Regions from separate parts of the Homo sapiens genome. Here region 1 is linked to region 2. Evidence: fine-mapped expression QTL. Tissue or cell type: whole blood. Region 2 holds a variant in brackets; the other region holds the start of a gene. All regions are shown on one strand. Distances are between the middles of the regions.

What was found. PIP is the estimated chance that this variant, and not a neighbour inherited with it, causes the effect.
Region 1: SAP30 starts here. The variant in region 2 is the best candidate, but not a certain one, in a credible set for the expression of SAP30 in whole blood (TOPMed, PIP 0.76).

What each region holds. Positions count from the first base shown.
Region 1 is chr4:173,363,715-173,375,867 of GRCh38, forward strand. It overlaps SAP30 (Sin3A associated protein 30), which reads left to right and starts at 7,240. Exons shown (of 4, transcript NM_003864.4): 1 at 7,240-7,783; 2 at 9,676-9,801; 3 at 10,225-10,323. The coding sequence starts at 7,469. It overlaps SAP30-DT (SAP30 divergent transcript), which reads right to left and starts at 6,984. Exons shown (of 4, transcript NR_183973.1): 1 at 6,578-6,984; 2 at 5,720-5,896. RefSeq lists enhancers at 3,926-3,995, 6,461-6,700, 7,784-8,347, 8,051-8,350 and silencers at 7,101-7,270, 7,551-7,930.
Region 2 is chr4:173,406,576-173,418,728 of GRCh38, forward strand. LOC112268474 (a long non-coding RNA gene) reads left to right here. Exons shown (of 3, transcript XR_002959832.2): 3 at 1-7,505. It also overlaps a transcript of SCRG1 not described here. Among named protein-coding and RNA genes, the nearest start is that of SCRG1, 14 kb to the left of the region's middle. The variant G/T (reference allele first, on the strand shown) is at 4,886.

The DNA.
Region 1 (12,153 bases), 43 kb before region 2:
AAAATGAAGGAAAACTCAACGATTTGAAAATGGTATGATTGAATGCATTGAAACCCAAACACAAATACATTTATATTTTTATTGGATAAGAAATTTTAGCAGGGTTGCTGGATATAAAAATTAGTTTGGAAAATTAGCTTATTTTATATATATTTAAGCAACAAAAAAGGAAAATGAAATATTAAAAAGATACTATTTACAATAGTGTCAGAAATATCAAATATATATAGAGATATAATAAAAGATCAGTGAAACTTCTGCATAGCAACAAATACAATTATATTAAGAAACATTACAGAAGACCTAAATGAATTGAAAATCATGATTGGAAGGCTCAATGTTGAAGAAGTCGCTCGTCTCTCAGGTTAATGTATGGATTTGATGCAATATCATCCAAAATCCCAAAAGGCCTTTTTTGTTGTTGTTGTTGTTGTCTTATTGTTCATTTGGTTGGTTTTTCTTTTTTCTGGAACTTAAGCTGATTCTAAAATGTATAAGGAAATACAAAGGGTCAAGAATAACCAAGTCTGTGTTTTGACGAAAAAAAAATAAGGTAGAAGATCTATACTTCTAGGTTATCAAAATTTTTCTGAACGACTTTTATAATTAAGACTGTGGAATTGGCAAAGTACAATGGAAAGACTAGGCTTCAGAAACAGACCTACATACATACAACTTGATTTATGACAAAGGTGACACTGTAAAAGAATGGAATATGGATAGATTTTCCAGTGAATGGTACTTGGTCAAATGGGTAGCATATACAAAATAAAATTGTACCTCAACCACTGTGCACAAAAATCAATCATAATCTTAAATGAGAAAGGCAATACAATGAAGCTGTTAGAAGATAATGTAGAAAAATATCTTCATGATTTGGGGATAAGGAACTTACTTAAGTCACAAAAATCATCAGTCAGAAAAGAAAAGATAGATATATTTTTTCCTCATTAAAAGACTTTAAACAAAAGTTGCCACTGCAGAGTCAAAAGGCAAATTATGAAGTAGGCAAAGATGTGTGCAATATGTAAAATTGTGAAAAGGCTGTTATTCAGAAAACATGAATAACTACTACAAATCAACAGAAAAAGACACAATCCCAATAGAAAAATAGGCAAAAGACCTAACTAGGAACTTCCAAACGAGAAATCCAAAAGACCAATTAATATATAATCTCATTAGTAACTAAGAATGTTCAAATTAAAATCACAATTAGATACCATACATACCTACTTGATCTTTTTTAGAAAGTACAATATCAAATGGTAGGCAAAGATACAGAACTCTCATATATTGCTTAAGGAAGTGTAAAAGTTTGGAAATATCTAGTAAAGTTGAATCTACGCCTACCTTAAAACTCAGCAATTCTGTTTACATATGTAAGCAAGGAGCTGGAAGTTCTCACTCCAACTTAACAACATATATATCTTACTGACCTGCAGTCACGTATGTATCAGGATACATGTACAAGAATAAGAATGTTCATGGCAACATTCTTTTAATAGCCCTAAACGGGAAACAATCCATATGTCTATCAACAATAGAATGGATATATTGTAGTTTATTCATACCATAATGAAGAGAAAGAATTAAACTACATAAAAGTAGACCTTTGAAAAACAGAGTAAATGAACCCAAAGAAAACAGAATATAAAGTATATGAGTCCACTTATATAAAGTTCAAAAACAGCAAAACTGAAAAAAAAAGTTGAAGAACTATGTGGCAAAACTGTAATGAAAAACGAGGTAACAAATACCATAAAAGTCAAGATAGCTACTCCTGCTAGCTGGGAGATGGGATTTATGATGAAGAAGTGGCAGGTGATGGCTTTCTGGCATGTTGTCAATCAGGGCCATCTACATAATTTGTGGTGTCCAGAACAAACATCTTTTTTCTCTCCCTCCCTCTCTTTCTCCTCACATGGTGTTTTCTTATTTGCTATTTAATGTGGCACTCCCTTGGGCACAGGTGGAAAACTGACCCAAAGGAGCTAGGGGCCTGACTCCTGGTTCAGAGGAAATGGGGAGGATCCTGCACCTCAGCCAGACACTTCCTGCACCGTACCTCCTGCTCAGCCTCTGCCAGAGCAGAGGGTGGGGTGGGGTGGAGTGGAGAGAGTGAGCAGCCAGAACTCATTCTGGGGAGGAAGGGAGGTGGCAGGAGGCCCATGTTGCCTGAATCAATGCATTGTCCCATTGATACTTCACTGATAAAACACAAATTCAAAGATAAAATTATTGAGAATTACATGATGGTGATTGCAGGGCATTAAATGTCAAGCAGGAAGGAGGAGGAGAGTGGAGCATGTTGGCTTCTGAGCTTGGGGTCCTGTGCCACTGCAAGTCCCTGAAGCTGGCCCTTTCAGCAATGTTCTCTTTCCTGACCTGGGTAGCAGTTATACGGATGTGCATTTTACCATAACTGCTTGTCTCCGTTCATTTGTGCCGCCATAACAAAATAGTTGAGACTCAGTAATTTATAAAAACCAGAAATTTATTTTCTCAAGGTTCTGGAGGCTGAGAAGTTCAAGATCAAGATTTGATCTTGGTGTCTGGTGGAGGCTGCTCTGTGCTTCCAAGATGGTGCCTCTTGCTGCATCCTCACATGGTGGAAGAGATGGAAGGGGTAAACTCGCCCCCTCTATCCCTTTCATAAGGCGCTAATCACATTCATGAGGGTGGCCTCACCACCTCCTAAAAGCCCCACCTCTTAGTACTGTTGCATTGGGGATTGAGTTTCACAATGAATTTGGGAGGGGACACACACAAACACTGAAACCACAGCACTGCTTAAACTGGACATTCATGCTTTATACAATTTTCTGTATGATGGCTGAGTTTAAAACTAGATAAAGGAAAGGTGGTGTAAAACGGAATGAACTTTTGCTGTAAAATATAGAATTATTCACATATAGAGATGTATATACTAGTAAATGCATACTTTTTTCTAGAAGGAAACAATAATCTGTTAACACTGGTTGCTTCAAGGGACAGGGATTTGAGGAGATGAGGTAAAACAGGCTTTTGTTTTTCATATGAACCTTTTTGTATTATTTGAATTTTCTACTGTGGTCATGTTGGGATTATTGGCCAATTTATATGTTTTTGTAAATTAAATAAAATTATTTAGTTGCTTATTTTAAAGTAAAGCCAGAAAAATGCAATCATGTTAAAAGCCTATAGGGAAGACAGGCACGGATACATACTTTTTTAAGAATCATATTTTGAACCATTTTAGAAAGCAAAGAGCATTTTTGTTGATATGAACAACCCCCCTATAATTAAGGTTTCATAGATCTATATTTTTTACCTAGTCTACTCTGAGGTAGATTTACTGTGAAGCTAAAGGATTCAAACTTCAGAGTCCCTCACTTGGATAGACCCTTATGAAGTCCTGTACCTAATTTTAATTTTGCATTCATAATTTTACATACTTCTTTAAAAAGACCTTTCAGATTATATAATCTTGAAGCCCCCCTAAAACCTGATTCCAACCTTGACTGTGAGTTACACTCAAATCAAAGAGTTCTTATACCTGCCCTAAATATGAAGATTTGTAGAAATAAGTAACAAAACATGGTTGTAAAAATGTATCTAAACAAATAGATTCACTCAAGATACACTTTAAATCTGGCAGTGAGAATTAACATGTCCCCTACTCCAGCAATCTTTTCAACTTGCCAGAAATGAATCATTTCCTCCTATGTGCTATGCCTGTACTTTCTCTCTATTGTTATTGAGGTTTGTATTATGTGCTTGTTAAGCTACCTGTCTGCCCTACTAGACAAGAAGCTCCCAAATAGCTAGGACCCTCTCAATTATTTTTGTGCCTCCAGGGCCTAGAAAAAGATTCTAGCATGCAACAAGTGACTGTTTAATAGGATCTTTTTACAACCATTGTATTGTGTGTAAAGGAGCCATAGCTACAGTTCTTTACTTGAGTAAGCTTCATATGAAACTGATAACTATACATATACATACATGCACAGCTTAAGGAGATTCACAAAGTACTTATCAGTAAGCATCTTTCTTTTTCCTACTGAATTTACATGATTTGGTCACATTTTGCAGAAGATATAAGCTTTTTTAAGCACAAGAACCAAACAATATGAATTTCATGAACTATTTTAAAAACACATAAATGTACAAAGAAAAATATGAAAATTCAACATCCCACTGTCATGTTTCAGATATTTTTAATAAATAAAAACTTTAAAATTCAGAAGAAACCATCTTTAAGCCATTCCCAGTGTGAAAATTGATCATACAATCTGGATCATTCTTGTCATACCCAACTAAATCAGAATCGAGGGACCAGGGGAGAAAGCAATCAGGGCACACAGCTCTAGCATTAAGAATTAAGTTTTTTACAACCCAGCTGCTGAAACGGCCTGCAGTAACTCTAAGACCAGTTTTACCGAGTAGTTGCTGAAACAATCTCCTATGACTAAGACTGGTTTTATCTACCACTCTCACTCACCAATCAGAGCTTGCCAGCTTCCCAAAACTTTACTATAGTGCCAATGAACCTTCTTTCAAAACAGTAGCAACATTTCTCTTTCTAATAAAACTCTCGACCTTCTCTTTGTTCTTCTGACATACTAAAGACCACTCAGTCTGTGTGTATGTCCTGAACTGCAATTCTTGCTTCCCCAAAAAACCATTAAATTTAGAAATTCATCTCTTTATATTTTATGTTTACTCTGACACCATATACAAATTCCTTGGCCTCCTTCGTTGGAGATGAGCATCACCCTGAAGTTGGGATGTATCATCCCATCCATATATTCTCATTTTTACCACTTAAGAAAATGTATCCATAAATATATAACATGTATCCATAAATATATAATTATTCTGTGTTGTAATTTTTTTTTTTTTTTGAGACAGGGTCTCGCTCTGTTGCTCAGGCTGGAGTGCAGTGGTGCAATCTCAGGTCACTGCAACCTCTGCCTCCTGGGTTCAAGCAATTCTCCTCCCTCAGCCTCCCAAGTAGCTGGAACCCCAGGCTTGTGTCACCATGCCTGCCTAATTTTTGTATTTTTAATAGAGACGGAGTTTCACCATGTTGGCCAGGCTGGTCTCGAACTCCTGACTTCAGATGATCCACCCTCCTCGGCCTCCCAAAGTGCTGGGATTACAGGCGTGAGCCACCACGCCCTACTGTGTTGTAATACTTTAAGCCAGTGTTATCTAATGCAACAGGTACAATTTATTGTAATATTTTGTTTAACCCATTACATCCAAAACATTTAAACATATATAAAAATTTTTAATGTGCACTTCAATATTCTTTTTGAAAATTTCTTGTAGTAAGTCCAGAAATAAAAAAAAAGTCCAGCTGATATATACTTACAGCACATCTCAATTCATATGCTAAAGTTAGAGTTCATAAAATTTAAGTTGGAAAAACAGATTCATATATCTGAGTTGTTGCAAACACACTTAAAAGTATTCCAACAATTGAATCGAGCATCAGGTTTTTGGTTTTTGTTTAATTCAAATTCAATTAACGATTCAGTTTTTCCGTCTCAACCACATTTCAAGTGCTGAGTAGCCACATATGGCTAGAGGACAGCCTACTGGACAGCACAGCTTAAGGAGGTACACAATGTACTTATCAGTCATCATCTTTCTTTTTCCTACTGAATTTACGTAATATTTAAATTGTTTTTCTTTGTCATATCCTAGAACTCAAACGCACAGATACAATGGATACCTTTGATTTTCTGCGTCGATGGCATTTTGCATTTAAAAAGATCATCTGGGTGGGGTGGCGCGCGTCTGTAATCCCAGCTACTCGGGAGGCTGAGGCAGGAGAATCGCTTGAACTCGAGAGGCGGAGGTTGCAGGATCGCGCCACTGCACTGCACTCCATCCTGGGCGACAGAGCAAACTGTCTCAAAAGAAAAAAAAATCATTTATCACTAAATTTACTCACCAAAAGAACTTGCAAAAAAAAAACCCAAAACCCTACTGCCTAAAATATATTTTAAAACGTATTTGTGTTTAAGCAGCATATATCTTTTGATAAATAATGACGCATGGTAGCTAACTAGTAAAGATGCAGCTTTCATATTAGCCACGCCCATCCCTCTCTCCGCCCTCCACAAGCACGTCCCCGCAAGCGCGCAGGAACATACACGCGTACGCGCGCACACACACGTACACACGCGCGCGCCCGCGAACACATACATACAAGCAGGCGCGCCCAAACGCCGGCAGCACACAGGCGCGCACGCGCTTTTCAGGACTCAGGAAATGCGCTTTCTGCTCCCCGCGCCCGGTAGAGCTAATGCAGGGAAGTTTCTGGGAACATTCGACCAGCGTTTGTATTGGTGAGGTTCCAAGTTTCCTTTAAAATGATATGACTCCGCCCTTCTCCAAAACCGTTTGAGGAGAAATGGAAAAGGTTGGGCGTGGAGGTGAAAAGGAGCCCTGTTGTCAACTGGTCCGTACTCCACCTCAGGAGGCGGCCAACTTGGTGCGCCCAAGAATAAAAACATTTCCCTTGTAAGAACATGCAAGTGTTTAGAAACGCCCCCCCACCCCCCCGCAAGGCGTTTGTGAGGGGGACCTGTCACAGTTGAGAAGTCAGGATGGGCGTTTTCCTCCCAGGAGGTGCCCTATTAATTTGCGGCCTCGATAGTTGGTCAAGCCGGGATGTTAGCTGCGGAACCTCCAGGACCGAAGAGCGCCAATTCTCCTGAGTTCTCCTTGGTTTGGGTTTCCCACAAAAGAGTGGTCACACCAAAAACTCTGTCTCCACAAATGCGAAACGGGCTCGAAACTTTTTTTTCCCCACACGATCACTTCCCACACCACTCCCATCCCTTTATGTTTCGCCTCAGGAGTCGAGGAACTTCTCTGAAAACCAATTCTACGATATTCCAGCAGCTAAACACAGCCCGAATTCCCTAGAAACAGAGAGAGCGAGAGAAAACACTGTAAACCCCAATCACACGCTCCTGTTTTCCCGGTACTGAAAAAAAAAAAAAAAAAAAAAAGTGGGTCCGTGGCCGCGCTATGCATGCTAGGATTAGTAGTTCCTCCGTCCCTCATGGCGCGGGGTCAGGGCGGAGCTCAGGTTGACTCTGCAGCAGAGAACTACAATTCCCATGGGGCCGCGCGGCAGAAAGAAAGGGGCGGGACGGGAGGGGGCGCGTCGCGCTTGCGCAGGTCCCGGGGCCGGAGGGAGGCGGAGGCGTAGCGGTCCAACTGCTGAAGTCCCCATGTGACAGTGAGCGGGGTCCCCGCTCCAGGAGACGCTCGAGTCTGCGTCCCGGCCCTCAGCACTGTCCACTGTTTCGGTGCCAGCAGAGACCAGCAGGCCCGGGACAGTTGGTGTTTGGCCGTGCCGCTGTCTAACTTGGTGTGCAGAGTGAATTGCCGCTGCCGGAGCGGAGAGAGGCGGAGCGGCCAGGAGAGAGGGGATTTCTGTCAGCGCCGGCCTCGGGAGCTCGGAGACATGAACGGCTTCACGCCTGACGAGATGAGCCGCGGCGGGGATGCGGCCGCCGCAGTGGCCGCAGTGGTCGCTGCCGCGGCCGCCGCCGCCTCGGCGGGGAACGGGACCGGCGCGGGCACCGGGGCTGAGGTGCCGGGCGCGGGGGCGGTCTCAGCGGCTGGGCCCCCGGGGGCGGCCGGGCCGGGCCCCGGGCAACTGTGCTGCCTGCGGGAGGATGGTGAGCGGTGCGGCCGGGCGGCAGGCAACGCCAGCTTCAGCAAGAGGATCCAGAAGAGCATCTCCCAGAAGAAGGTGAAGATCGAGCTGGATAAGAGCGTAAGTAAACCGCGGGACCGCCCTGCCCTCCCGCCCCTCGGTGGGGCCCCAGGAGCCGGGCAAAGGCACGGGTTGTCGGCGGGGTCCCCCAGACAACCGCACTGGCTGCAGTGCGGTCTCGTGGAGTCTGTGTTTGGAAGCAAATAACAAAGTCGCTGCAACTCCTACCGCCACCCCAACACACACACCACACACAGGCTGTCGTTCCCCTCTTCTTTCCCACCCTGGCCCCCAACCTCCCGCTGCCTGCGTCTCTCCCGCGCAGTCTTCCCTCTTCCTTCTCCTCTGCGACCGGGACACGAAACAAAGGGGACCGGCGCACTGAGGGCCCAGAGTAGTTTTCTTGCAGCCCGGCAGCTCTTCTGGAATGGAGGCGCCTTTGTTTTGCTGCCCAAGCTGGTGTTTGGCCCCAGGCGGTACTAAATCCCGTCGTCTAGGAGAAAGCGGAGGACCTTCACGAACAAGGAAGATCCTGTTCTTTTCTGTGTTCCGTCTCCTCCGGAGCGGAGTGAGAGGGAAGCCGAGCTCACCCGCCGCCTGGCAGTGAGCCGGGGTTGTAAACGGCGTTTGCGCTGTCAGCTCCGAGGGCAGCTACTCCGATGGTGGGGAGCACGTAGCCTCTGCGGTTTTGCCATCCCCTTGGCAGCCATCAGGATTTTTTGCACGTCTTTTCGTTTGACCATCTATGAGGTTTTTAGAAACAGCCGTTGCTACTTTTGGGAGATCTGGCTAGCGGTAAATGAATAACATGGTATCGAGAACCTACCACAAGTCCTGCATATTTTTATCTTGCGCTTGGCTTAGAAGTAAATGTAAAAGCCTGTTAGCTCAGTCCGTGTTTGTTTCAAATGCTAGTCTACAGCTCGCAGGAGTATATGTAATTAAAGTTTTTGAAAAGTTTATTTGTGACACTTTTTGCCCGTTTAAACAGTTTTCAGTGTTATCCATGAGAAACTCTTCAGGTGAACTTGCATAATTTCAGATTGTTTTGGAAAAATGTGTTATAGATAAATACATTGATTTAATATTCAGAAAAATGTATAACTGAAATTTAAATATAGTTTTGAAGTCGATGGCTCATTTGTGAAAACGAATGGTTTTGTATCTGGACTATAATTTGGGTATTCAGTTAGAAAGACTGGAAAGCATACATTATATTACTAAAATATGCTGTTCTTTTAAGTAGAGAAAGTACTGTCAAGTAGCAAAACTGTGAGCAACATCATCTTTCCCCTCATCAGTTAAAAATTCAACATGAACTAATTCAGGTCATCCTTACTGCTATCTGTTTGTTTATTTATTTAAGACAAAGTCTCACTCTGTTGCCCAGGCTGGAGTGCAGTGGCGCGATCTCGGCTCACTGCAACCTCCAACCACCAGGTTCAAGTGATTCTCCTGCCATAGCCTCCTGAGTAGCTGGGATTACAGGCTACTGCCACCATGCCCGCCTAATTTTTTGTATTTTTAGTAGAGACGGGATTTCACTATGTTGGCCAGGCTTGTGTGGAACTCCTGAGCTCAAGTGATCCACCCGCCTTGGCCTCCCAAAGTGCTGGGATTACAGGCGTGAACCACCGCGCCCAGCCCCTCACTGCAATTTGATGACAAAACCCAGAGGGTTGGAATTTCTCATTCTCCTCTCCCTCCCTCCCTTACCCCCTTCCCCAGATGGAACCAACCCCTCCTTCCCCATCCACCATCCTTTTAACAGTATTCCAGACATCTTATGTTTTAGCGTATAGGATTTAAACGTATAAATATTCCATTATCTTAACAATGGCCCATCTTGGCTGTCTTTATTTTTAAGAACTCACTGTGGCATATGTGTTTTACTAATACATAGACACATTTTACTGTAATCATAAGCAGTGTGTAAAACTTTTCTGTTTCAGGCAAGGCATCTTTACATATGTGATTATCATAAAAACTTAATTCAGAGTGTTCGAAACAGAAGAAAGAGAAAAGGGAGTGATGATGATGGAGGTGATTCACCTGTTCAAGATATTGATACCCCAGAGGTAGATGGAAGTTTTTTATGCTTAATGTAAATCCTAAGTAGTGCATTCTGAAGCCTTTATAAAAAGATATGAACAATCTTTTAAGTGTTTAAAACATTTGAGAAATCTGAAAATGAAAGCAAAATTAAATATAGCCAGTTGACATGCATTTACACAGTTTGAATTGTTACATTTTAGATTGACAATTTTTGCAGCTCTGTTGTCACATAACTTACTCTTTTTTTGACCTCAGTTTATATTATTTATCCCCAAAAGATTAAATTCTTTAATAATTTATGTTGGATTATATAAATTTTTTAAATTTTTTTTGATTTTGGAAGTAAATTTTATTGTGCTGAAGTTAAAATGTTTGTTATTATACATATCAATGATAAATTTTCAACAAATTGTATGAACTCATTTATACATGTTAATTTTTTCTAGGTTGATTTATACCAATTACAAGTAAATACACTTAGGAGATACAAAAGACACTTCAAGCTACCAACCAGACCAGGACTTAATAAAGCACAACTTGTTGAGGTATATATGAGTTTTAAACTATTTGAACTATCTGCACAACCGAGAGGTTATTAAGTGCTAATGGAAGTTTTAATGTAGTGTATGTAACAGTACATTTTAATTAGAAAGAACAAAGTTAAAAAATCTGTTGTGGAAGAATCTAGTTGTGTAGAAATGTTTGTCTGCCACTTAGGAAATTCCTTTTTGTAATGACTGCTTAGTAGATTGTGTACAGCACCTTCTGATACTGGCTTTCAAAATGTGTTGATTGTTTTTTGAGACAGAATCTCACTCTGTCACCCAGGCTGGAGTGCAGTGGCATGATCTTGGCTCATTGAAACCTCTACCTACCAGGTTCAAGCAATTCTCCAGCCTCAGCCTCCCAAGTACCTGGGACTTCAGGTGTGCACCACCACACCAGGCTAATTTTTGTATAATATTTTTAGTAGAGATAGGGTTTCACCATGTTGGCCAGACTTGTTTCAAACTCCTGACTTCAAGTGATCTGCCCACCTCAGCCTACCAGAGTGCTGGGATTACCAGTGTGAGCCACCGTGCCTGGCCCTCAAAATGTTGAATGAGAGTTTTTTTAATCCTCACTTTAGAAATCTATTAATTTTAAAACTCCGTTTAACCAGTAAACATTTGAGCACCTAATTGAGGCATAATAAAATTAATTAACAAGCTTTAATGTCCTTATTAGAATTTATATTTTAAAGTGGTGGAATAGGCCTACAAATCAGACCCTAAACAGTATTTTTATAATTTGCTGACTTAACTATTTCAAAATTTGTCCTTGTTGATGTTTGTTTTATTAGAGACATCCATGTTTTTTTCACATCTAGAAGAGGCAAAAGCTTTTCTTTTACCCAAGCTTTTACTTGTAGTTTGCTTTGATAGAGGACTTCTAGTCAGTCACTGAGTTGTGAAAAGTTAACGGAGCATGCATATGTTTTCAGGATATAATAGAACCAAGAAATCTGTGCATCTTATTAAGATGTTTATAGATTTATATATATATATTTTAATCATATTTAAAATAAAAATTTTTACTTGCAGCTACTGAGGAGGATTGATTAAGCCTAGGAGTTTGAGTCACCATGGGCAACATAGCAACACTCCATCTCTAAAAAAAGAAAATTTGGCCTACTAGACAAAATAGAAGTGTAGAAATATAAATCAGTTTTCTCATATTCTTTGCATGGATTTAGTAGTTACCCAACATTTTCTAAAATGTGCCTATTGAATAAAATGAAATATGAATAGAAGTTACATTTATTTGGCAGAATGCTTTTTAACATTGTTAAAATCTAATATATTAACTATTTAGCTAAAATTTTTTATCCTTGGTTGGGCAACACAGATCTAATTAATTTTTCTTTAATTTTGATTTAAAAGATCAAGTTCTTTTGGGGTTGTACAATACATTAATGTAACATAAATATAGTTATTGCCCACCATGATGAAATATTTCAATAGGTACTAATGGAGTGAAGGCACCCCTGTTTTGGGACAAATGAGAACCAAAGAACTGATTATTTTAAATGTTATATTTAGGTATAAATTAAACCTGTAATTTTTGATAAACTGACCTTCTAAGAACAGTTATATTATTTCCAGAGCTATTTTCTTTTTTATACATAAGAGATAGCCATGAGTGTTATATTTTACTTAATCAGAAATGCAGATATTAGCAAGTTAAGGAATGTGCAGATGTAGTACATATATTTTAAGAGAGGGGTCCCCAACCCCAGGGCCATGGACTGGTACTGGTTGGTGGCCTGTTAGGAACGGGTCCGCAGAGCAGGAGGTGAGCACCAGCTAGCAAGCATTACTGCCTGAGCTCCGCCT
Region 2 (12,153 bases):
TACAGAATAGTCTCTCTGCCCTAAAATATCTCCTGTGGTTTACCTATTCAACCCTCCCCTCCCTCCTACCCTGAACTCCTGGCAGCCATTGATCTTTTTACCATCTCTATAGTTTTACCCCTTCTAGAATGTCATATAATTGGAATCATGTAGTATGTAGCCATTACATACTGGCTTTTTTCACTTAGCAATATACATTTAAGATTCATCTATGTATTTTCATGGCTTGATAATTTCTTTTTATCACTGAATAATATTCCATTGTATAGATATACCAGTTTGTTTATACTTTCACTTGTTGGAGGACATCTTGGTTGCGTACAGTTTTGGAAATTAAGAACAGAGGTGCGCGCTGGGCATGGTGGCTCACGCCTGTAATCTCAGCACTTTGGGGGGCCGAGATGGGTGGATCATCTGAGGTCAGGAGTTTGAGACCAGCCTGGCCAACATGGTGAAACCCTGTCTCTACTAAAAATACAAAAAATTAGCCAGGCATGGGGGCACATGCCTGTGATCCTAGCTGCTCAGGAGGCTGAGACAGGAGAATTGTTTGAACCTGGGAGGCAGAAGTTGCAGTGAGCTGAGATCATGCCACTGTATTCCAGCCTGGGCGACAGAGCGAGATCCATCTCAAAAAAAAAAAAAAATAGAGGTGCTGGGGCTGGATGCGGTGGCTCACGCTTGTAATCCCAGCACTTTAGGAGGCCGAGGTGGGCAGGTCACCTGAGGTCAGGAGTTTGAGACCAGCCTGACCAACATGGTGAAACTCCATCTGTACTAAAAATACAAAAATACATTAAAAAAAAAAATTAGCCGCACATGGTGGCCAGCGCCCTGTAGTCCCAGCTACTGGAGAGGCTGAGGCAGAAGAATCACTTGAACTTGGGAGGTGGAAGTTGCAGTGAGCCGAGATAGCGCCACTGTACTCCAGCCTGGGCAACAGAGTGAGACTTCATTTAAAAACGAAAAAAAGAGAGTAGAGGTGCTATAAATATTTGTATGCACGTTTTGTGTGGACATAGTTTTCAATATCTTTTTAACATTTATTTTTCAGGTCAATTAAAATCATTATTTGTAATAATCTAGCCTTTATGCAGCTTCTCAAATATAGCTATTTTAAAAATAATAAACACATTCATATAATAAATCCATTCAGAATCAGACACCATTTTGTATAAAAGTGTAAACAATGAACCTGCAATTATTTTATGGAATAAGATAACTTTAGGGCAGTTTAGCAGTATTTCATTTAACATTCTTTGAAATTTGAGCAGACCTGTGGTCTATGGAAGCTGTTTCTTTTACACTGCAAACAGGGAAATTTATAGGTGTTAAATTTGCTATAAAATTGTTCCTTTATTGCTCCTTTACTAATAAAACATTAAAAATTACATATTTGGAAATCTAAATAAAAGCATTTTCAAACTGAAATAATAAATACAACACAGTATTAGATAACTAAAACTTGCTCCCTTTATGTGTATACATATCAGATAGGACACATGAAATGCCAGGAAATAGGCAATGATGATATTTTCTCTGGATATTTAATCTCTAAACACATGAAATATATTACATACAGTATAATCCTGATGAAATATAACTTGTTATTCCAGAGGATTGGGTATGTGTTAGAGAGTCACCTATGTCCACTGAAAGTTTAAAGCATAGCAACAATTCTACGAAAAAAACCCACACCTTTCTATAACACTGTCTTCTATCAAATGACAATTTGATCAAATTAATCTTTGCCTTTAATACTAATATTCTAAATAAGCCTCCTTCTTTGGGGGTGAATTAACAAAAATTGCCCCTGGATTGTTACTACCTTACAGAATTTTTACTATGCTTCCACACTCTATGTTAGTGACTCGTGTTGATTGGTCCAGTATGGCTCAAGTGTAAATATCTTGACATTAGAAAGATTTAACAATTTTAAGTGATTTATTATGTGTCTTAAGCTATCTTATGTCTATGGTTTATTTTATGTCTTAAGTTACTTTATGTAAAATATTTGAGAAAATAGAGAAGGATAAGTATCTGAGAATGAAGGGTTTAAGAATATCACACAAGTTCAATGTCTTTCCCCTCCCCATAGAAATTTTGACCATTTTAGTGTCAGAAAATTAATGAGTCTGCTAGGCGCCGTGGCTCACGCTTGTAATCCCAGCATTTTGGGAGCCTGAGGCAGGCGGATCATGAAGTCAGGAGATTGAGACCATCCTGGCTAACACGGTGAAACCCCGTCTCTACTAAAAATACAAAAAATTAGCCGGATGTGGTGGCGGGCGCCTGTGGTCCCAGCTACTCCGGAGGCTGAGGCAGGAGAATGGCGTGAACCCGGAGGCAGAGCTTGCAGTGAGCCGAGATGGCGCCGCCGCACTCCGGCCTGGGCGAAAGAGCAAGACTCAGTCTCAAAAAAAAAAAAAAAAAAAAAAAGAAAAGAAAAGAAAAAGAAAATTAATGAGTCTAAAGCTATCTCAGCAAATAATGGGATTTTCTTTCCTGACCTAAAAGGTTCTGAGATTTCTCCATTAGAAGCCTGCCTCACTGAGAGGTGAGGACTTTTTAACCAATAAGCCTGGAGGTTTTAGGGCTTTAGTTTAGCATAAGGAATTCAGGAGAGAATCCCTGGGAATGTGATTCTCCCTGAAGCAAGTCACATGTTATGATACATTAGATGGGAGCTTCTGTGGTAGACCATGTCCCTCTTAACATTATAACAGGGGAAATCTTCCTTCTACCTCTTTTTTCATACCCCTTACCTGTGTGACAGAGGGCCCTTCAGATGCTTAGCTGCCTCTCCTATTCTAGGATCTCTTTCTGTCCTTTGATTTTCATCTTTATCTCTCTTTCTCCATGTCTCTTCCTATCCTTTTGCTCCCATGAAACTATTTGTGCTATGCTCTGTATCCTTCCAGGTTGTGACTCATGTCCCATTTGAAGCTGGAGAAGCAGCAAGATAGACTAAGATATGAATTCCCTGGATCTGCGTTGGTAGTTCCCTGCATACTTTTTTTTTTTTTTTTTTGAGACAGAGTCTCGCTCTGTTGCCCATGCTGGAGTGCAATAGCGCAATCTCAGCTCACTGCAACCTCTGCCTCCCAGGCTCAAGTGATTCTCCTGCCTCAGCCTCCTAAGTACCTGCGATTACAGTCACACACCACTGCACCCAGCTAATTTTTGTATTTTTAGTAGAGACAGGGTTTCACCATGTTGCCCAGGCTGGTCTTAAACTCCTGACCTCAAGTGATCCGTCCGCCTCGGCCTCCCAAAGTTCTGGGATTACAGGTGTGAGCCACTGCATCCAGCCTCCCTGCATACTCTTAAGTATGCCAATATTAGGTGAGTGGATATACATGTCACTGGAAAAAGAACATTTTGTGGCCTTACAATGGATGTTCTTTTCAGTATCCCCCTGACATGGCAAAACAAACTTACCGAGTGCTAAAGATCCTCCAGGAGGAAAGGGATGAAGACCTGGGGAAGGGATCTCCGTCCCATTTGAGATTCAACCTAAGTAAAACTTTCTGAAGGGCTAAGATAGCTCTGACTGAGGTCTCCCAAGAAGAGAGAGTCTGGCTCAGTGACAGGTTCAACACCAGAGCGTAGAGGTTTGTGGGGACAGCTTGTTCTAGATCCTGTGTGTAGCTGTGGTTAGAAGCCCAATTATACCCAGCCACTTTGGCAAAGCTGTCATGTTTAGGGAACAGTGGCTGATTGTGTGAGTGTAAACCCAATAAGCTGTTGTCTTGGGCGTCCATATGCACAGTGCTACCCTGCTGCCTGTGCAGTGTTCCATAGCAGCAAGGCCATTCCTACAGCAAGACAAGGACTCACTGAAGCCTGATGGAATCAGTTTTCAACAGTGACATTGTACAGAAGTTATGTTTAAAACCAGAACCTGTTAATGGACTGGTCACATGGACCACTGAAACAAGACTACTACCTTTGGACTAAGTTAATTCTCAGGTTTCTGTACAACAGAGAGAATGAAGGTTCCTTAAGAAAGAGAAACCAAATTACCTACTATATGGAGGAATGGAGGCTTAAGCAAGCAATTGGAAAAATAAAGAGAGATCCCCAAATTTTTCGTCCTAAACTGATCGAGATCCCTACAGATTATATTTAATATGCTAACTCATTGTGAATCTCTAAGAGCTGAAGGGTTTGCTAAATTTGTTTGACTACTGGACTTTTTAAAAAAAACTATATATCTCAAGAGACTGGACTCTAAGGAACACTTGTTATAATAGAAAATGCTTCTTCGGTGACAGAATTTTAGATATTAGGTCATGACAAAGGAGCAGCACATTGGGAGCAGAGGCCCTTTCCTGGCACCCACCCATATAGTTGTTTGACTGTCTCAGAGTAGACTAGTTCTGGGGTTCTGTGCTGTTAATCATGTTGCTCTAGTGACTCTAACCCAAGAAGGGCAGAGTGTGCAGTGAGACAGTGCTGAGATGGGATTCCAACTTCCTCCTTAGCTCCATCTATCATTATTAGCCTTTGAATAATGCCCACCACCTGCAATTGCTCGTTGGCTACATGAGAGTAGAGATTTCCCGTTTTATTGTTTTATGCATCCTCAGTGTCTAGAACTGTGCCAGGCACCGTTTAAGTACTCAATAACTATTTATCAAATGAATGAACTTCTGATCTAACACTGTCCTGGCAAAGACACTAAAAGCCTAACTTAGCAATTTCTTTTGTACAGTTTGTACCTTGTGGCTACAAAGATTCAGGAAGTATGAGAACAGTGATGACTTGGAACTACTAACTAGGTTTGGTGGGCCCAGTCCTCAGCAGCAAACAGTAAATAATGTTTTATTTGTAAATCAAGTGAAACCTATCTTTTCCCAGGTTGGACCAACCCAGAATGGGG[G/T]TCGGGGTTACAACCATCTCAAACCACATCAGCTGAATCACCATCCCCCTAGTTCCACATTGCTCAATCTGAGGATAAATTGCAACATATTTAGCAACCTGTATGGTGGCATATTTTAATAAATAAATGTATTTCTATAAATCAGTATATAAATAAAAATTAAAAATATTTCCTTTCTAGTCTTTAAACTATGTATCATGAAACTGTTTACAGTGTAATGTAGCTTACAAGGCAACATTTTCATCAAATCATTCTAATAATTTCTAAATCATTATTGATTTTTAGAAATTAATGGTATGGTCTTATGTTTGGTAAGCTCTCACTAAACTAAATGCTGCTTGTCTCTAAGCTACAGTTTTATGGAGGAAACTGTACTAAATGCTTCCAATGGCTTCTCCTTGTGTCGATGGTTATTAGGTGTGGTCCCAGGCATGTGCCTCAGCAGGAGAGTGATTGGGTGGGGTGCCCACTGTGTTTAGAATGCTAGCGTTTTTCACCTCATCTGTGTACCCAGAGTACTTTTGCTTCTGCCCCATCTACAACCCTGTCACTAGCCCAGCTTGTTCTGCTACTCCTGCCAACCCTGGACCCCTCCTGAGCAGCAAGTAGGCACTGTGTCTGTCTCAGCTTCCACCTTGGTCTTCTTATATCATGCTGCCCTGTCCAGATGCACCAGTCCCAAGTCCCAAAACCACTCATGCAGTGGCCACTGCATGATGTCATTTGGTGGCATGTGGTCTAACTTAAGCTACTTACCAACCATCAGGGCAGAATTTCCAGTTTCTACCTGCAGTAACATCATGCCTGTGTGTATTGGCTGAATATAAGCCATGGCCCCGTCTCTTCTGAGTAGTTCCGCAAATCTCAAGGCCATCTCTCACATTTATGTTAGAACAAGGCCATGAATGCTGTTTTCTTCTATCTCATGATCCCTACCATTTCTTCTTCTGTTTCTCACCTCAATAAAATGGCTCCCATGTTGATGCCTTGATTCCCGGAAGGAGCTACTGTTTTGCTTTGCCTCTTAACATCGCTCAGGTGATGCTGCCCTTGCTGATACTCTGTCTCTGAGCTGAAGCAGGAGAAAATCCCCTCTGTTGGCCTGAGTGGCCCATGGTCACCAGCCCAAGGCTGCCTCATGCTCTTCGTGACTTACTGCTTGCTATAATCCTGAGTCTGTGGATGATCACATCAGAAAACGCCCTCAGTTTACTGTTGCGTCCCACTGCTTCCCATCTTCTGAATTAAGACTGCACATTCTGGCTCTTTGCCTTGGGTAATCTTTTCCCCCAATAACTTGGGAGCTTTGATTCCAAGTGGCTTAGGAGAGTTGTTCTCCACACAGCTGGGTACCAGAAGCAGCCAGCTGAATGGGACCAAGGCATGAAGACTGAAAACCTCGCAGGTGACTTGGATCTTCATCCCAGGTTGAGAATCTCTAGCTTAGGAGTCTCTTTTGAGTCCTAAAGGAAATACTCAATTTCCCCCATCTGTCAGGTCCCTGCCACATCTACCGACATGTGCAATGGGATTAATTCTTAAGAAATTCATATACAGCTTAGACTGTTGCTCAGAGACTCCTGCCACTCTGTGAACCACCCCTATGGACACTGATGCACAATTTCCTTTGGGTTGATCTCATAAGTTGCATTTCCAAAAAAAAAAAAGAAAGAAAATAATAAGACCTTGACATCATAAGGAAACCACTTTTAGTTGCTCCATTTCCTGGAGCCTACAGCTGGCAAAATGCCTGGGACAAGATGTATTCAATTCAAGGCAAAGCAGAGTTGTTAGGAGAAGCAGATGGCCCACCTAAGGTGAAAAAATTACTTTCTTGTGAGGATAGGCAGGGCAGTTTATTCACCTCTTCCTCTAGGAAGGTGAGAACGTGTGGAGACAAAATAAATAAAACACATTACAAGCTCATTCCACAGATGAACAGAACAATTGGTGCTGAACAAGTCTACAGGAGGCATCTTCCAGCCTCCAGGAAAGCTGTAGGAGCTTGTCATGCATGCATTAAAGTGCCCCCAGAACTCGAAAACCATTCCATCAGAGGAGCTAATAAGAACCAACGAGTCATTGACAACAGCAACCATCAGTAACCCTCTCTGAGAGCTGGTAATGAACAGCAACAAATATTGGGGATAGTTAAGATGAGCCAGGTAAAGGTTCAGGAAAATGACTGAATAGATTACAGGCAGCAGGAACTGTGATCCATCTGAAGAAAAAGGGGAATCATGTGAGTGGATGTGTGGCAGCTAGAAAATCTGCACATATTGAGGTAAGAGGAGGCCAGGCAGTGAGAATTTGTTGTGATTATCTAACTTTCCAGAGGAGAGAGACATGTTTCTTGGTAGCTACTCATGTTCAGATTATCTAGAAAGTACATTTCATTCAGAAGTCTTCTCCAATATCTGGATGCTGCACCCCTTAAGGTTATGCAATGCTTTTGCTCTGAATCCTTGTTCACAAGCAACAACCTGATTATGAATTTGGTCTCCCAGGTACCTTGATAATGGGCAGAATGTGTCCAAGATTGAGGGAACAAGTTTGGAGATCCTTGGAAAGGCTTATTGTGTACCTGTTACAAATAAATAAATGTGGGTTTTGTTTGAGAGTTTGGTTAGCACGGGTCAGTTTCAACCTAATCACCCAGCAACACAGACAAAATCCTCTCTTGGGACCTGCATGGCTGAGGGTCAGACCCCGGAACACTTTGGCCACTCCTCTGTATTGCCATCCTGTGAGGCTCCACTGGAGCAGCCTGGGCCTTCCTCCCTGACATCTGTGCCTGTTTAAATTTAACACAATCAGCCCAGAAAGTCATCTCCTCACCAGTTTCTTTAAAATCAACAGAGGATAATTCCAAGTAATGTTTTCTGTAATGCATTCTGGAGTCTCATAGCCCTGAACCTTAGGAAACAAGTTGCATCTCACACTCTGTGAGCATCTACCCAAGTAGCAAACTCAGCTTCCTGCAGTGGTCCCTGCTGTCTTCTTCACCCTGATGGGGTGAGTCTTGGTGAGGCCACATGGTGACGTACAGGGGATCCTTAAGCAAGGAGTTGGAAAGGAAAGGTTACGCTGCCAAGCACAGCTCCAACCCAGAGCCCTCATGCCCTCTTGATCATGTCGTTTGAATGGGGGATGGCTTAGGTTAAATGAAGAAAGGGGTGGGTGTTCTCATCTACAAGAGCAGAACTAGAAGGGTGCTTCTTGTCAGCTGTGTTCACAGCAGCTGTGGCTGGGTGCACAGCTTTCCCCATTTTTCCACTGTTGAAAAGAGTGTGTGCTTCTGTGGCTGGTGCTGGCATTCTCATCCCTGACTCTTGTAAAGGTGCAACATCATCACTTCAAGCACTCTCTCTTAGTTTTCTCCTCCCTAGGGTGTGAATAGTTGACATCGTGCACTCCTTGGTGGGCACTGCGTGCTTGCTTGCTATAGGACACTTGTTCACTGGTATTTTGGTAACCAGTAGTTTTTGCCTGTCTCCAGAATAAGAGGGAAGCAGCAGTGACCCAACTCTGGAAATTATCTACCAGGCTCACATCCCATATATTGCCCTATATCCCTTGAAAACAGCAAATTTATATGCACAATAAAAGCGTTAATATTGCATGTTAATTTCTTCTTCCCCCAAATTGGAGAGTTGGCAGAAGGACTAATAAAGATGACTAGTGTGAATAGTCTCTCAAAATAGTCATTTCATAAATTAAATAGGAGATGCATTCACTGCAGCTGAGATTTATGAAAGTTCTGTGAGGTGGCAAAACAGGGTTTGCAATTCAGGATTTTATTGCCCTTAGGGGCTGTGGCTAATCTGTTGTGAAGTGAGGTTTCAGTTGGGTAAAGATTGAGTAACTAGAACAGAGATGCATTGTGTAACCCCCGTTTCCTTTTTATTTCTTGCGGACCAGTGAATATCCTAAGTCCCAAACTGTACGCCAGCTTAGTAGATTTAATTTTTGAGTGTTTTGTATCATGACAGCTCAGCATTTCTTGCAAAAAGTGGCCCCAGATAACCATGGCCATTATATCAGTCTCTGTGCTGATGCTGAATTTGTCTGACAGACTCACACAGGGGCCTCCAAATAGCCTTTTCTTTAAAGGGAAAGAGAACTGGCATTTACCAATTACTTAGTCTGTCTCCAAACGACCTTTATTTCTCATGGCAAATCTGTGACATTGGTATTACAGGTATTTCACCTTTGTTCTGGATAGGATTGAGGCTCAGAGAAACCAAATAGCGTGCCCAAGTTACTTAATTAAGAACCTTAGAAGCCTAAAACAAACATGATCTCTTCTGGTCAGTTTTATACAGGAGAAGTGAGGTTTCAGGATTTAAACCAGGCCTATCTGCCTCCAAATCCATTGCTCCTTCCACTGTGCTGTGTGGCTGCATGAACACACCAAGAGCTGGAGAAATGACATAGGGTCTTAAAGCACCACCAATAAAATCATGCGAAAGAAAACATATTTTGAAAAAAAGGCTGATTGTCATATTGAAGCGCCCCACTGGCAAGTCTCTAGGAGGCCCTGGTAAGACCAGCATGTGCGCCTCGGGGTGTTTTGAGTACCTGGGAGGGCAGGGGCCGTGCAGTCTCCTCTCCCGCAGTGTAGATGAGCCAGGGAGGGACAGCAGCAATACTGCCGCCCCAAAGTCATCTGCCCACTTCCAGTCAGAGGCCCTAACGTTTTCCTAGTTATCTGAGTGTCATCTCTTACGATGACTTATCCTGCTCAAAGCCTCTTTATTTAAACATTTGCCAAGTGGGAGGGATTCTGTCCCGACAACGGCCTCCTCATTTCCATGCTCACTCCCAACGCACGGCTCAGACGCCTGTGCGCAGATCCTGTCTGCCATAAGAACCTCCCAAACGATGCTCCCCGCTGCCAGCCACTCCTTGTGCCCATCTTGTGGCTGCTAGATATATCGTCCTACAGCACAGCTCCGATGATCTCATACCTCTGCTCAAAAGGAAGGAAGTTTCCAAATTTCAAACTCCAGTGCCAGGCGCGGTGGCGCGCCTGTGGTCCGGGTGACTGAGGAGACTGAGGTGGGAGGATCGCTTAAGCCCAGGAGTTGCAGGCTGCAGGGAGCTATGATTGCATCACTGCACTCCAGCCTGGGCAACAGAGTGGGACCCCGTCTCTTAAAAATAATAAAAATAAATTATTTTAATTGTAAAAGTTTGAAACCAAATTTCAAAGTCAAACCTAGAAAGCGTCTGGGGCTATCCCCCGGCTCCTGGGGCCCTCTCCCTTCGTGTGACGGCCTCTAGGACTAGCGTGCTTGGTTTGTTTTTGGAAGCCATTTCCTCAGAGTGATGGTTTCTGAGGAACCATCAGCTGCAAGAGTTCTGCTTTATAAGAATATACACATAAGAAGAAAATAGAAATAGCCTAGAACTCTCCGGATTTCATCACATCATCACACACACACCCAAACACACACACACACACACACACACACACACACACACACACACAGTCACATCATCACACACACCACACACACACCCCACACACAATCACATCTTCACACACACCCCACACACAATCACATCTTCACACACACCCCACACACAATCACATCTTCACACACAACACAAACACAATCACATCATCACACACAACACACACACACACAGACACACACAGACAGAGAGACACACACAGACAGACAGACACACACACACAGAGCCTTTGTCTTTTTACATTTAGTTGTTATTTAGCGCCACCTGGTGTTAAAACTAAACAGCACCTCTGGAGAAAAAACAAGCATCTACAGGCATGTTTTACCCCAAATTGAGGATCTTTAGCACTGGAAGGAACCTTAGAGATCATTTAGACAGATGCCTCATTTTATAGATTAGGAATGTATGCAGATTTAGAAACAGAATTGAATCCATAGTTCTTGAATTCTAGACTCCTCAATTTTCCAGCATGCCCCAGTTGCCCCCTAAGCCTCCAAAGGAATTGGGCTAGAGGGATGCCACCTTTGGAAAAAGACAAAAAAAGAATACTAGCATTTACTGATCCTTTATTATAAGCCAGTTATTGTGCTAAATGCATTTACAGACATGACCTCATGATCTCATTTCTTCTTCATAACTAGTCTCCCTCCCTCCCTCCCTCCTTCCTTCCTTCCTTCCTCCCTTCCTTCATTCCTTCTTTTTTTTCAGAGAGGAGGTCTTGCTCTGTCATCCAGGCTGGAGTGCTGTGGTGTGATCAGAGCTCACTGCAGCCTTGAACTCCTGGGCTCAAGCGATCCTCCCACCACCTCAGCCCCACAAGTAGCTGGCACTACAGGTGTGAGCCACTGCAGTAGGGTGATCTTATTCTTGTTCCGCAGATGAACAAAGTAAAATTCAGAGACCTGCAACACACCTTGGACCTGCAAGTAATTTTATGTCTGTGTTTCTATAAGGACCTGTTCATTCCAGTTGTCTCAGTGGTCAGTGTGGATTGCCACATGAATAATTTGGTGGTGGCTTAAAAAACAAATATTTACTTCTTGCTCATGTTTCATGATAAATGCAGGTTGACTGTGGGTCAGCTATAACTCTGATGGGCTCAGCTTGGCTGGATGAATAATTTGGTGGTGGCAATTGGCATAGATCCCAAAAAATAAAAGATAATGAGGAGCTCAGTAAGGTCATATTGTATTATTTGTTCACAATTACTCATTCCTTCCTTGCCTTTTCCATACTTCTGTGCAGGCAGAATACATTGCCCTCCCTGCATTGACCTTGGACTTGGCCACTTTCTTTTGGTTAATAAAATGTGTGTGAACTTGATATTTGCTGCCAGAGCAGAAGCTTTCAGTGGTGTGGTTTGGTGAGACCTGCTTCAGCCTTGACCTCCCCCGTGAGAACAGCACACCTTAGAGAGTTGCTCTTCCTTCAGTCCTGGCTCCTGGAAGGAGATGATAATTGTGGCTGAGCCAAATCCAGCACAGCTGAGCCCATCAGAGTCACAGCTGACCCACAGTCAACCTGCAGCCCTCATGAAACATAAGCAAGAAATAAATAGTTTTTAAAACCATTGAGAATTTGGTGTTGTTTGTTGCTGCACCAAAAGCTGACCAGTACGGAGTTTGAACACGAGTCTGGTTGACTCCAAAACCATTTTAGAAACTCTCTGTGAAAATGGACACTACTTCCAGGATGATGTCTAATATGGTTTGGGTCTGTATACCCACCCAAATCTCATGTCAAATTGTAATTCTCAGTGTTGCAGGAGGGGCCAGGTGGGAAGTGAT